3 linked regions of the Homo sapiens genome follow. Each later gene encodes a partner of the first gene's protein in a complex. Each region holds a gene or a part of one and is shown in the gene's direction. Other genes may lie near its edges.

Region 1 (3,649 bases):
TTAGCACTTCTGTGCCTTTCATCCTCCCCAGGAGATGAACTCCCTCTTGGAGAACATCGCCAAGGCCACAATCGAGGTTTTCCAACAGTCAGCAGAGACAGGGTCATCTTCTGGAAGTACTGCAAGCAACATGCCCAGCAGCAGCAAGACCAAGCCTGTGCTCAGGTCGGATAGAAACATGTTAGGACCCATCCCCTTAGGAGTTTATCTGCTGGTAGCGTGAGTGATATCAGATGCGTGGAGATGCCAGCATGTCCATCAGGGAAAGGAGAGGATAGATTGTTCCAGCCTTGCCTGGCTCCCCTGTGACCCTGTGTCCTCTGTCTGTTCTCCAGCTCTCTAGAGCGCTCTGGTGTATGGCTGGTGGCCCCCCTCATTGCTAAACTGCCCACCTCAGTCCAGGGACATGTGTTAAAGGCTGCTGGGGAAGAATTGGAGAAGGGTCAGCACCTGGGTTCCTCTTCACGCAAAGAACGTGATCGACAAAAGCAGAAGAGGTAAAGGGGCTTAGGGAGTGGACCAAGATTGAGGGGTAGAAAGGAGAAGAGGCAGGCCCGGGGAAGAATAAAATGGGCCAAGGAGAAGCATCATAGGAAAGTGGAAAATCAGAGGATAAGAGTGGGCATGGCTGAGCAAGAGGCTAGATCTTAAGAGAGTAGTCTGGAGAATGAGGTTGGAAGTTGACTCCCAACCCACAGTCTCCCTTTTCTCCTCTCCTCTTCTCTCCTCTTCTCTTCTCTTCTCTTCTCTTCTCTTCTCTTCTCTTCTCTTCTCTTCTCTTCTCTTCTTTCTCTTGTCTCTAGCATGTCCCTATTGAGCCAGCAGCCCTTCTTATCGCTGGTGCTAACATGTCTGAAAGGGCAGGATGAACAACGCGAGGGACTCCTTACCTCCCTCTACAGCCAGGTGCACCAGGTACAGATCTCTGGGCCATGGAGGTGGGCAGGAGGTCAGGGAAGGATGCACCTAAGGGGTTACTCTGTACTTGGAAACTTCAGTACTTTCTGATAAACATATTGGCTGCTGTGGGATGGAAACACGAAGATCCCTGAGCTGCATATTTTATTTGTTTCTATTCTAGATTGTGAATAATTGGCGAGATGACCAGTACTTAGATGATTGCAAACCAAAGCAGCTTATGCATGAGGCACTCAAACTGCGGCTCAACCTGGTGAGAAGGCCAGCTGGGGAGAAGAAGGAAGAGGGTAGGGCTGGAAATGCGGAGTGCAAAAGCCTCAGGTTGGGGAGAATGGGGGTAAGGATAGAGGCCCCAGGTTATTCTGAGTCTTGAAGGGTTTTTTTTTTTTTTGGAGTCAGAGTCTCACTCTGTCACCCAAGCTGGAGTGCAGTGGCGCCATCTCAGCTCACTGCAACCTCCACCTCCTGGGTTCAAGTGATTCTCGTGCCTCAACCTCCTGAGTAGCTGGGATTACAGGTGTGTACCACCACACCTGGCTAATTTTTGTATTTTTCATAGAGATGGGGTTTGACCATGCTGGTCAGGCTGGTCTTGAACTCCTTACCTCAAATGATCCGTCTGTCTCGGCCTCCCAAAGTGCTGGGATTACAGGCATGAGCCACCGTGCCCAGCCTGAGTCTTGAAGTATTAACCTTGTTCTCTGAAAGTATGCAGGGACTGAAAGTGGTTAAGGGGGCTGGATCACTGTGGTCATGGTCCAATAGGTTATGTACCCTGGATCCTTGCAGGGCCTCTGCCTCAGTATCCTAGATTCTGACTGGGCCCTAGAAGCACTGGAAACCCACTGTGGAATGTTGAATGGAATCCTGGAAATCATTCTGTCCAATTCCCATCACTTTCTAAGTATGGAAACAGAGGCCTAGAGACGTCAAGAATTCCGTCATTGTCTTGAGATCATGTAGCAAATCATAGGCTCAACTCAAGCATGGCCGGGCGCGGTGGCTCACGCCTGTAATCCCAGCACTTTGGGAGGCCGAGGTGGGCGGATCACGAGGTCAGGAGATCGAGACCATCCTGGTTAACACGATGAAACCCCGTCTCTACTAAAAATACAAAAAAAATTAGCTGGGCGTGGTGGCAGGCGCCTGTAGTCCCAGCTACTCGGGAGGCTGAGGCAGGAGAATGGCGTGAACCCGGGAGGCGGAGTTTGCAGTAAGCCGAGGTCGCGCCACTGCACTCTAGCCTGGGTGACAGAGCGAGACTCCGTCTCAAAAAAAAAAAAAAAAAAAAACTCAAGCATGAACTCAGGCGTCCCAACTCAGATTGGAACTAAGCTTTCCTGAAACTCTGGCCTTTGTCCCTGAGCCATCTGACTGACTTGTTGTGGCCCTGGCAGGTGGGGGGCATGTTTGACACGGTGCAGCGCAGCACCCAGCAGACCACGGAGTGGGCCATGCTCCTCCTGGAGATCATCATCAGCGGCACTGTCGACATGCAGTCCAACAAGTAAAGCATCCCCACCCGCTCCCTGCAGTTTCATACCCAAGAAGCTCCCCCTACTCCCATGCCAGGTGCACCCACTGAGATTGGTGTGGCTGTTACTGTGGACTCCGTGGCCCTGGGCTCCCCATACAGTTTTGGTGCCCTTGGGATGACATATTAAGCACCTCTCCCTGCTTGTGTCCTCTGCTGAGGCCTTTTTCTATCTTCACCTCTTTCTTCTTTGGTTTTCTCTCTGGCTTCCTGTCTCAGTGAGCTCTTCACTACTGTGTTGGACATGCTGAGCGTGCTCATCAATGGGACATTGGCTGCAGACATGTCTAGCATCTCGCAAGGTAGCATGGAGGAAAACAAGCGTGCATACATGAACCTGGCGAAGAAGTTGCAGGTAAGCAGAGGAAGCGGGGGCAAGGTTTGCGGTTACTGGAATCTGCTGTCCAGCCTCAGGAACTTGCTTCTGGCTGGAGCCCTCTACCTTTCCTTCTCACGTCTGCCTTTTCTTTGTTACTCATGCCGTGAGCATTTACTGAGTGGGGGTCTTCTCTGTGCCAGGTTCTGTGCTGTCCCCTGAGACTTCCCATCCCTGTTTTCTGTATCTCTGAACTCTTGTCCCATCTTCCTGTGCCTGCAGAAGGAGTTGGGGGAGCGCCAGTCAGACAGTCTGGAAAAGGTTCGCCAGCTGCTGCCACTGCCCAAGCAGACCCGAGATGTCATCACGTGTGAGCCACAGGGCTCCCTTATCGATACCAAGGGCAACAAGATTGCTGGCTTCGATTCCATCTTCAAGAAGGAGGCATGTTCCATTGTCTGCCCGTGTCCCTTGCCTTTTTTCCCCTTTGGGCAAGAACTTTGCCTGCATCAGCTTTGTAGCTCCAACAGACTCATCAGATTCAGGAGCCCATCAGTCTCTGCCGGTGAACACCATCTCTGGGGTTTTGAGCAAATCACTTAACTTTCCTTACATTTCATCTCCATCTTTGAAGTCCCACCCTCTTTCCTTCACCCTGCCCTCACCTTTTAACATACCACCCATTTTTCAATACCCTACCCTCCTCTTTCCTCTGCTCCACCTGCCCCATGTCCTACCCCACCCATCTATCTGGCCGACAGCCTGTATCTCTTTTATTTCTGTGTTTCCCTACACCCACCCATCTCTGCACACTTTTATCTTTTCCCTCTCTGTCAGTTGCGGTATTTGTTGAGTAACCATAATTATTGTGTATAGTTTAA
Region 2 (3,649 bases), on another chromosome or scaffold:
TGACAAATTTGATTTGAAATCAAATAGTGCCCGCAGCAGCCGCTGGTGCTTACACAGCACTTCCTGAGTGCTATAGCTCAGGTCTGCACAGTGCGGCCCAGGGCCTGACGGCCCCCGCCTGGGTTTGTGAGTGTGGCTCATTGGCACCAGCTGCCTGTGTGCCGCCACGGCAGAGCCAGAGCCAAGTCGTTGCAACAGGGACCACCTGGCTCCCAGAACCGAGCATGCTGCTGTCTGTCCCTTTACAGAAAGGGGAGGTGACTCCCGTTGCGCACACGTTCACCCGTTTAATCCTCCCCACTGTCCTCTAAAGCAAAGGTGCCGTTCCTTCCACCTTACAGATGAGGAGACGGAGGGTCAGAGGGGATCACATCCCACACGGCTCAGGTGGCCGAGTCAGGATCTGAACCCAGGTGCACACACTCCTGGCTTCTGCGTGGTTCTTCTGTGCGCGTGTTTCTGGGGGTCATGGGGCAGCCCCCATGAGCCTGAGCGGCCCCTCCTCCCTCCCTCCCTTCTCCACAGTCGGGCGCCTCCAGCTTCGGGGAGAAGTTCTCCCGAGTCAAGTTCTCACCGTCGCTCACGCTGTTCGGCGGCAAGCCCATGGAGGGCTGGATCGCGGTGACGGTCAGCGGCCTGGTCACCGTGTCCCTGCTGAAGCCCAGCGGGCAGGTGCTGACGTCCACCGAGAGCCTGTGCCGGCTGCGCGGCCGCGTGGCCCTGGCCGACATCGCCTTCACCGGCGGCGGCAACATCGTGGTGGCCACGGCGGACGGCAGCAGCGCGTCGCCCGTGCAGTTCTACAAGGTGTGCGTGAGCGTGGTGAGCGAGAAGTGCCGTATCGACACGGAGATCCTGCCCTCCCTGTTCATGCGCTGCACCACCGACCTCAACCGCAAGGACAAGTTTCCCGCCATCACCCACCTCAAGTTCCTGGCCCGGGACATGTCGGAGCAGGTGAACGGGCGCAGGCCATCACGTGGGCTGGCAGGCTTGGAATGAAGCACTGCTTCTCAGGGTCCTGGGGGTGGAGACCCGCGCGGGCCTCCACGGGCTAAACCGTGGTGTGGGCAGGGCCGGTCCCTCCCGGGGGCTCCAGGGGAGAACCCATTTTCTGCCTTTCCCAGCATCTGGAGGCGCCCAATCCCTCGGTTCGGGGCGCCTTCCTCCCGCTTCGTGGCCACAGCGCAGCCTCTTCCTGTCTCTGAATCTCAACCTCCCACATTCTCTCCTGAGGACCCTGTGAGGACACTGGGGCCCCCGGACCCCCCCCAACGTGCTCTCCCGTCTCAGTGTCCCGAACCGAATCCCACCCGCAGGTCCCTTCTCTGTGAGAGGCGGCCCAGCCACCGGTCCTAGGGCTGAGGATGGGATGTTCTGGGGGCCACTGTTGAGCCGACCACACCAGGTCGCCTGGATTCCTGTTGTAATTAGGAATCAGTAACGCCCCAAACTCCTTGAAGCCCCTGACTTGGTTCCCTGTGTCCCTTTGCTGTCCCTGTGGGAGGGCACCATCCGGGGACATTTGCGTTCCTGTGAGTGGATGTTGGGCTCTGGGGACAGGCCTGGGCTGGAATCCAGGAGGGCCCGAGGGGCAGGCGTGGCTGAAGAGACAGGCCCAGCAGTGCGTGGCCCCAGGGTCCCGCAGCTCAGGCTCCGGTGGTGGCGTGGCCACCACAGCAGTGCCGGGTCAGCCCTCACCCCCACCTCCCCCGCAGGTGCTTTTGTGCGCGTCCAGCCAGACCAGCAGCATCGTGGAGTGCTGGTCCCTGCGCAAGGAGGGACTCCCCGTGAACAACATCTTCCAGCAGATCTCCCCCGTGGGTGAGTCTCCCGCCGGCTGCGGAGGCCCTGGGCCTGCCCTCGGGGGCGGTTGGTTTTTATTTTGGAGGCAGGTCTTGCTGTGTCACCCAGGGTGGTCCTGAACCCCGGCCCTAAGCGATCGTCTCGCCTCGATCTCCAGTAGTGCTAGGATCTCGGGTGTGACCGCGCGCCTGCCAGCATTCTGAGTGTGTTAGGCGTATAGACTCCTCCATCCTTCCACGCCCGCTGCGGCGGCTGCCACCATTCTGTGCGAGGCCGAGGCTGAGAGGTGTCGTTGCTCAGCCAGCGGGGACACCGTGAGGGGCTGCAGGCGTGTGGGCGGCTGTGGAGCGTGGGTCTGTGGGTGGGGCCGTCGGGCAGCAGGGGACAGGCCAGACCGGGCAGGGGCGGTGCACGGAATCCTCCGGAACCTGGTTCAGGGAGAGGAAGCCAAGGCTCAGCGGGTCAGCTGAGGCTGCTGAGAACACGCCCCCCACCCCACCCCACCTCTCCAGCAGCCTCTTCTGGGGCCCCCATTCCCATCTCTATCCGCCCGATGGGCCCCCCGCACCCACGGAGCCAAGCCCGTCATCCCCACCTCCGGCACAAAATCCTGGGGCTGGAGCGAAGCAGGGACGCCCGCCTGCTATGACCGGGGACCAGAACAGCCGCTTGGTTTTCAGAGCCTCGGAGGCTGCGGGCCTGGTTTTTAGGCTGGCCTCCGCTCTGGAGAAGGGAGATGTTTTCCCGGTAGATGAGAGCACAGGCATTTGCCGATTAGCGCTAATGGACCCTGGAGTGGCCAGACGTGGGGGCACGTGGGGCAGGTGGGGCAGGCGCTCCTCAGAAGCCACTAATGAGCACGTGTCAAGAGGCCCCGATGGCTCCCGGGGCCTGCAGGTGGTTATGTCAACTGCCCATTGTGGCCGCAGAGGCAGTAAAGGTGAAGAGGGCCACTGCCATTCCTTCCCCCAGGGCTTGTAGTGAGTCACCAGGCAGGTGAAGAGGGCTGCTGCCATTCCTTCTCCCAGGGCTCGTTCCTTCGCCCGGTCCCCAGGGCCTTGTTGGGCCTCATTCCTTCCCCTGGGCCTCGTGGTGAGTCACCAGGCAGTTTGGGCTGCGCTGGCTCCTGCAGCAGCACCTGGCGCCACCCCGTGTGGCTGCACAGACCTGCACCTTCACTGCCCGGTGCCCCCGCTGGGCACGTCTGTGTCTACCATCTGCCCACAGCCAAGCCACTGGGCAGTCCTGGGCTCCGACACTCCTCCTCGTCTCCTGCAGCCGTCCTCACCTGCTGGCCCAGCTGTTACCCGCCCGAGAGCCACGTCTCACACACATGCCACAGCCTTTCTCAGGTCTCACATCCCTGGCAGCTGGGGGTCACTGGGACAGTCCCCACCGCACCCATCTCTCCCCCATCTCTCCCCCTACCGCCCCACGTGCCCACCATGCCAGGCTTTGGTCCCCGCCATGCCCAGCTCTTCACGCACCGCCCCACGTGCCCACCGTGCCAGGCTTCGGTCCCCGCCATGCCCAGCTCTTCACCCACCACCCCACGTGCCCACCGTGCCAGGCTTCGGTCCCCGCCATGCCCAGCTCTTCACCCACCGCCCCACGTGCCCACCATGCCAGGCTTCGGTCCCCGCCATGCCCAGCTCTTCACGCACCGCCCCACGTGCCCACCATGCCAGGCTTCGGTTCCTACCATGCCCAGCTCTTCACCCACTGCCCCACATCCCCACTTAGCAGCTTAGCTTCTCCCTGCCTCAAGTCCCCCCTCATTTAGGAATGCTGACCGCAGCCGTCAGTTGGATGGAGGAGGGGATGTAAATCGTGCTGTGAGGGT
Region 3 (3,649 bases), on another chromosome or scaffold:
GCAAAACATAGCCTCTTCCAGGAGTCTCTTATTAAGGGGAATGCTGCAAATGAAAACATGGCTTCTCTGTGAGCAGATCTTGCACTACTGGCAGCTCAGGAACTTTTGTGCTGTGCACATACTGGTGTCACATTGTCCTGGTCAGGCTGGTGCGCTTGTGTGTCTTTGGCTGGTTGCTGGTGAAAGAGCACCTGCGTGTGGTAGAGCCTTCTGCTGTCAGAGATTGTAATCTTTCCATTTTAGTTTGTTACATCATAATGCCATGAAATAGATCTTACATCCCTTAGAAAAGAAACCCAAGCAAATAAATCTGTACTTACTTGACTGAGGCTGTCAGTTTTGCTGGTATCTTCTCTATGTGTGCAGCAAAGACGATGCTGGCCCCGCTTACCTTTCTCAGTCACCTGTTGTTTTCTGTGAGATGCTGCCACAAAGGGGATCACTCACTGCAGTGTGCAGAGTGAACTGATGAAAGTTCATTTTTCAAGCTTTAAGATAAATGCTGATCATGTTTTTGGGATTTTTGTTTTTCAGAGCCAGGGTGAGCGTCTTCTTTCTAGAGAAGCACCAGAGGAGCTAAAGCAGCAGCCCCTGGCCCTTGGGTATTTTGTATCAACTGCCAAAGCTGAGAATCTTCCCCAGTGGTTTTGGTCATCGTGTCCCCAGGCTCAAAACCAGTGCCCTCTCTTCTTAAAGGTTGGTTTGGTGTCATATTAGAAGTTTGCAAGGAATGAGTGATTTACGCTTAAATTTAATTTTGGTTAGAAATTTCAGTTTTAGTCACCATAATCTTATTCTGTTCCTTTTTTCTCTTGTATCTACTTATACTCTGAGGAAATTTTAATTACAGTTGTAGGTGGAGAGTAGAATTTAGGAGGACCCAAAACCATGTCACAAAGAAATGAATCACTGTAGCCCAAGGAGGAAACAGTGGGGCCCAGAGGGTAAATCTAGGATGGATGCATGGGGTTCAATGTGATGGTCTTTCTCCAAGTCTATATTGCATCACTATCAGTAAAGTTAAGCCTGTGTCGAAGGTATAATAACCAGCCATCCTCTTCTTCCCCTGCCAGGGACTCTTCACATTCTTCATTAGAGAAGAGTAAGAGTCAGCTAAAAACATCGCACATTTACACTTGCTCCTTCCTTTATATTTCTTGGAACCTTTTAATCCCAATTTTAAGGGTTCAAAACAAAAGATCCCCTACTTGCAGTTTATGTTAAAAACAGCAATACCTAGAATGAAATCCATCTCTTGCCCACAGATTGGCAAAAATACAAAGATTTGGCAGCATACTGTGTTGGCCAGATGTGGGGAGCAGGCCCTGGTGTTGGTGGGATTGCTGAATGATATAGCCCTACACACTTCCCTTTCAGGGCAGCAATCCCACCTCTAAGGAATAGCCCAAAGGTTCTTTGCCAAAACAGAAAATGACATATGTCCAAGACTAGAAAGAACCTAAGTGTCATCAGTGAGGGACTGATTGAATCAACTGTGGTGCATCCAGACAGTGAAATATTAATCATCTACAACAAAATGGAGACCATTTCTATGTAATCATTCTGTGGAGTAGAGATTACCATGGAGTAATCTATAAGATATGCACATTCACACACATATACACGTACACACATAGCTGTGTATATTTTCAGAAAGAAACGATGGAAATTAAACCAAAAACTTATTAGACAGTGAAGCAATGTTCTTTTCCTAATGACTTTAACATACTATTATAAAATCAAAGAAGGTTTATAAAAATGCATGTGTTCTTTATTTTGAATTAGAATTATCAATATGAGCATAGATTTATTTTTCCTCTCTAAAAAAGTATACACATTTTTTTAGCTCTGTCTGCTGAAAAAGCTTAGCAGCAATAAACACCTCTGTTGCCACGAATGTGGTTCCTGCACACCGTTGTCATTTAAAGGAACTGTGGTTCTTTGAAGAGATGACTGATTCCAGATATGCAGCAGGAAATATTCACAATGAACCTGAGGCATCTTGTCACACCTAAAAGGAAGAAAGTTACCAAAGATTATTATGGTCCAGCAGGGCCTCAGGAGCCATCTTAGGGGGCAGCTCTGTTGTCCAGGGATAGGATGGGACAGTGTGATCATTAAAAAAAATGATGACAGTGATAGAATGAAACAAATCCTTGGTTCATAATTGTGTTGGAAAACAAACAAAAAATCAGTCATCATTTGTTGCTAGAGCATCAACTCAGTCTGAAAAATAAAAAAATAAAGAGAAAGAAGCATTTATATGTTGCCTCTCCTTTACATGTAAAGTAATACCAAAACCATTAGGTGAAAAGTTGATGAGGAACTTTATGATGGATGTAGTGTCCTGGTATCACCTGAACCCAGTGATGAATCATGTGACTTCAAGTGGGACAGTAGACATTTCATGCCTTTAATCATTTGTCATGTACAGATCATGTTGGCTCATGATTTTAGTAAACCAATTATAAAAAGACATTTTTGAGATAATGGAGCATTATCTTCCTCATTATCCTACAGATGGGGTGATAATATTAAGGAATCATTGTTAATTTTTCTGTGATAATTACTGTTATGTTTAAAGGTCCTTATGTGAGACATCTACTGACTTTTTACAAGCAAAATAATACAATATTTGTTTTTTTGTGGGGAGGGTTTTTTGGGGGTTGGTTTGTTTGTTTCTTTTTTTTGGAGACAGAGTCTTGCTCTGTTGCCCAGGCTGGAGCACAGTGGTGCAATCACAGCTCACTGCATCCTCATCCTCCCAGGCTCAAGCAATCTTCCAGCTTCAGCCTTCTGAGTAGCTGGGACTACAGGCACACACCACCATGCCCAGCTATTTTTTTTTAATGTTTTATAGAGATGGTAATATTTGTGTTTAATTCAGAAAAAGAAAATGAAAACAGAAAAGTGGTGAATATTGATAATTGTTGCATCTTGGCGATATCAATTCATGGGACCTTATTATATATTATAGTATTTTTGTGTGTGCTAGACTATTTCCATTGAAGAAACAAAATGTAGTAGACAAAAAAAGCCCAAAAAGTTTGCTTTTTTTTTGTTTTTTTCCAACTCTAGGATAAGAAGTTATTTGGGATTACCTTGGGGGTTACTGAGCAGGTTAAAATTTGTAGACTCACAGAAACCCTGACTTCTACGGACTTTTGGGAGCATCTGCTTCTGGCAGACATGGCCTCCCTCACTTCTGCACTGTGATTGTCTAGACCAGAGAGGTAACTCTCTTTGTTTTTTCACCAGGCTTCGCTGCATCACCACATTTCAGTAGCACAGACAGACGAACTTCTGCCTGCCAGGAATTCTCAGCGGGTTCCACACCCTCTTGACTCCAAAACCACGTCGGATGTTTTAAGGTAGATACCAACCTAGGCATCATAGCAGTGCAATTTGAAACAATATTCCTTTACTGTTGTCTTTCCAAGGTGTTTTAATCTAAGTGTGGTATTCATAGAAGCTGCCGTTTGTGCAGTGATACAGTATCTGATGAGTCAGTGAGAGCTGCAGTCCCTCATAGCTGCATGGGACAGGCGGTGTAATACATTGGATTCAGTTAGGCAGTGATAGGCATTTATAGTTGCCTTTGCTTCCTGTTCAGAGCAGGCACTTCATGGTGATGAAGAGAGGTCAGATC

The links.
Region 2: MED12 (region 1) and MED16 share a complex: the UniProt entries of both Homo sapiens proteins name them as parts of the mediator complex.
Region 3: MED12 (region 1) and MED13L share a complex: the UniProt entries of both Homo sapiens proteins name them as parts of the mediator complex.

What each region holds. Positions count from the first base shown.
Region 1 is NC_000023.11:71,132,042-71,135,690, forward strand, and holds part of MED12 (mediator of RNA polymerase II transcription subunit 12), read left to right. Parts: intron 1-31; coding exon 32-165; intron 166-335; coding exon 336-497; intron 498-803; coding exon 804-915; intron 916-1,081; coding exon 1,082-1,171; intron 1,172-2,315; coding exon 2,316-2,425; intron 2,426-2,671; coding exon 2,672-2,807; intron 2,808-3,050; coding exon 3,051-3,212; intron 3,213-3,649. UniProt on the Homo sapiens protein: Component of the Mediator complex, a coactivator involved in the regulated transcription of nearly all RNA polymerase II-dependent genes.
Region 2 is NC_000019.10:883,078-886,726, reverse strand, and holds part of MED16 (mediator of RNA polymerase II transcription subunit 16), read left to right. Parts: intron 1-525; coding exon 526-957; intron 958-1,718; coding exon 1,719-1,824; intron 1,825-3,649. UniProt on the Homo sapiens protein: Component of the Mediator complex, a coactivator involved in the regulated transcription of nearly all RNA polymerase II-dependent genes.
Region 3 is NC_000012.12:115,963,129-115,966,777, reverse strand, and holds part of MED13L (mediator of RNA polymerase II transcription subunit 13-like), read left to right. Parts: intron 1-534; coding exon 535-696; intron 697-3,258; coding exon 3,259-3,371; intron 3,372-3,649. UniProt on the Homo sapiens protein: Component of the Mediator complex, a coactivator involved in the regulated transcription of nearly all RNA polymerase II-dependent genes.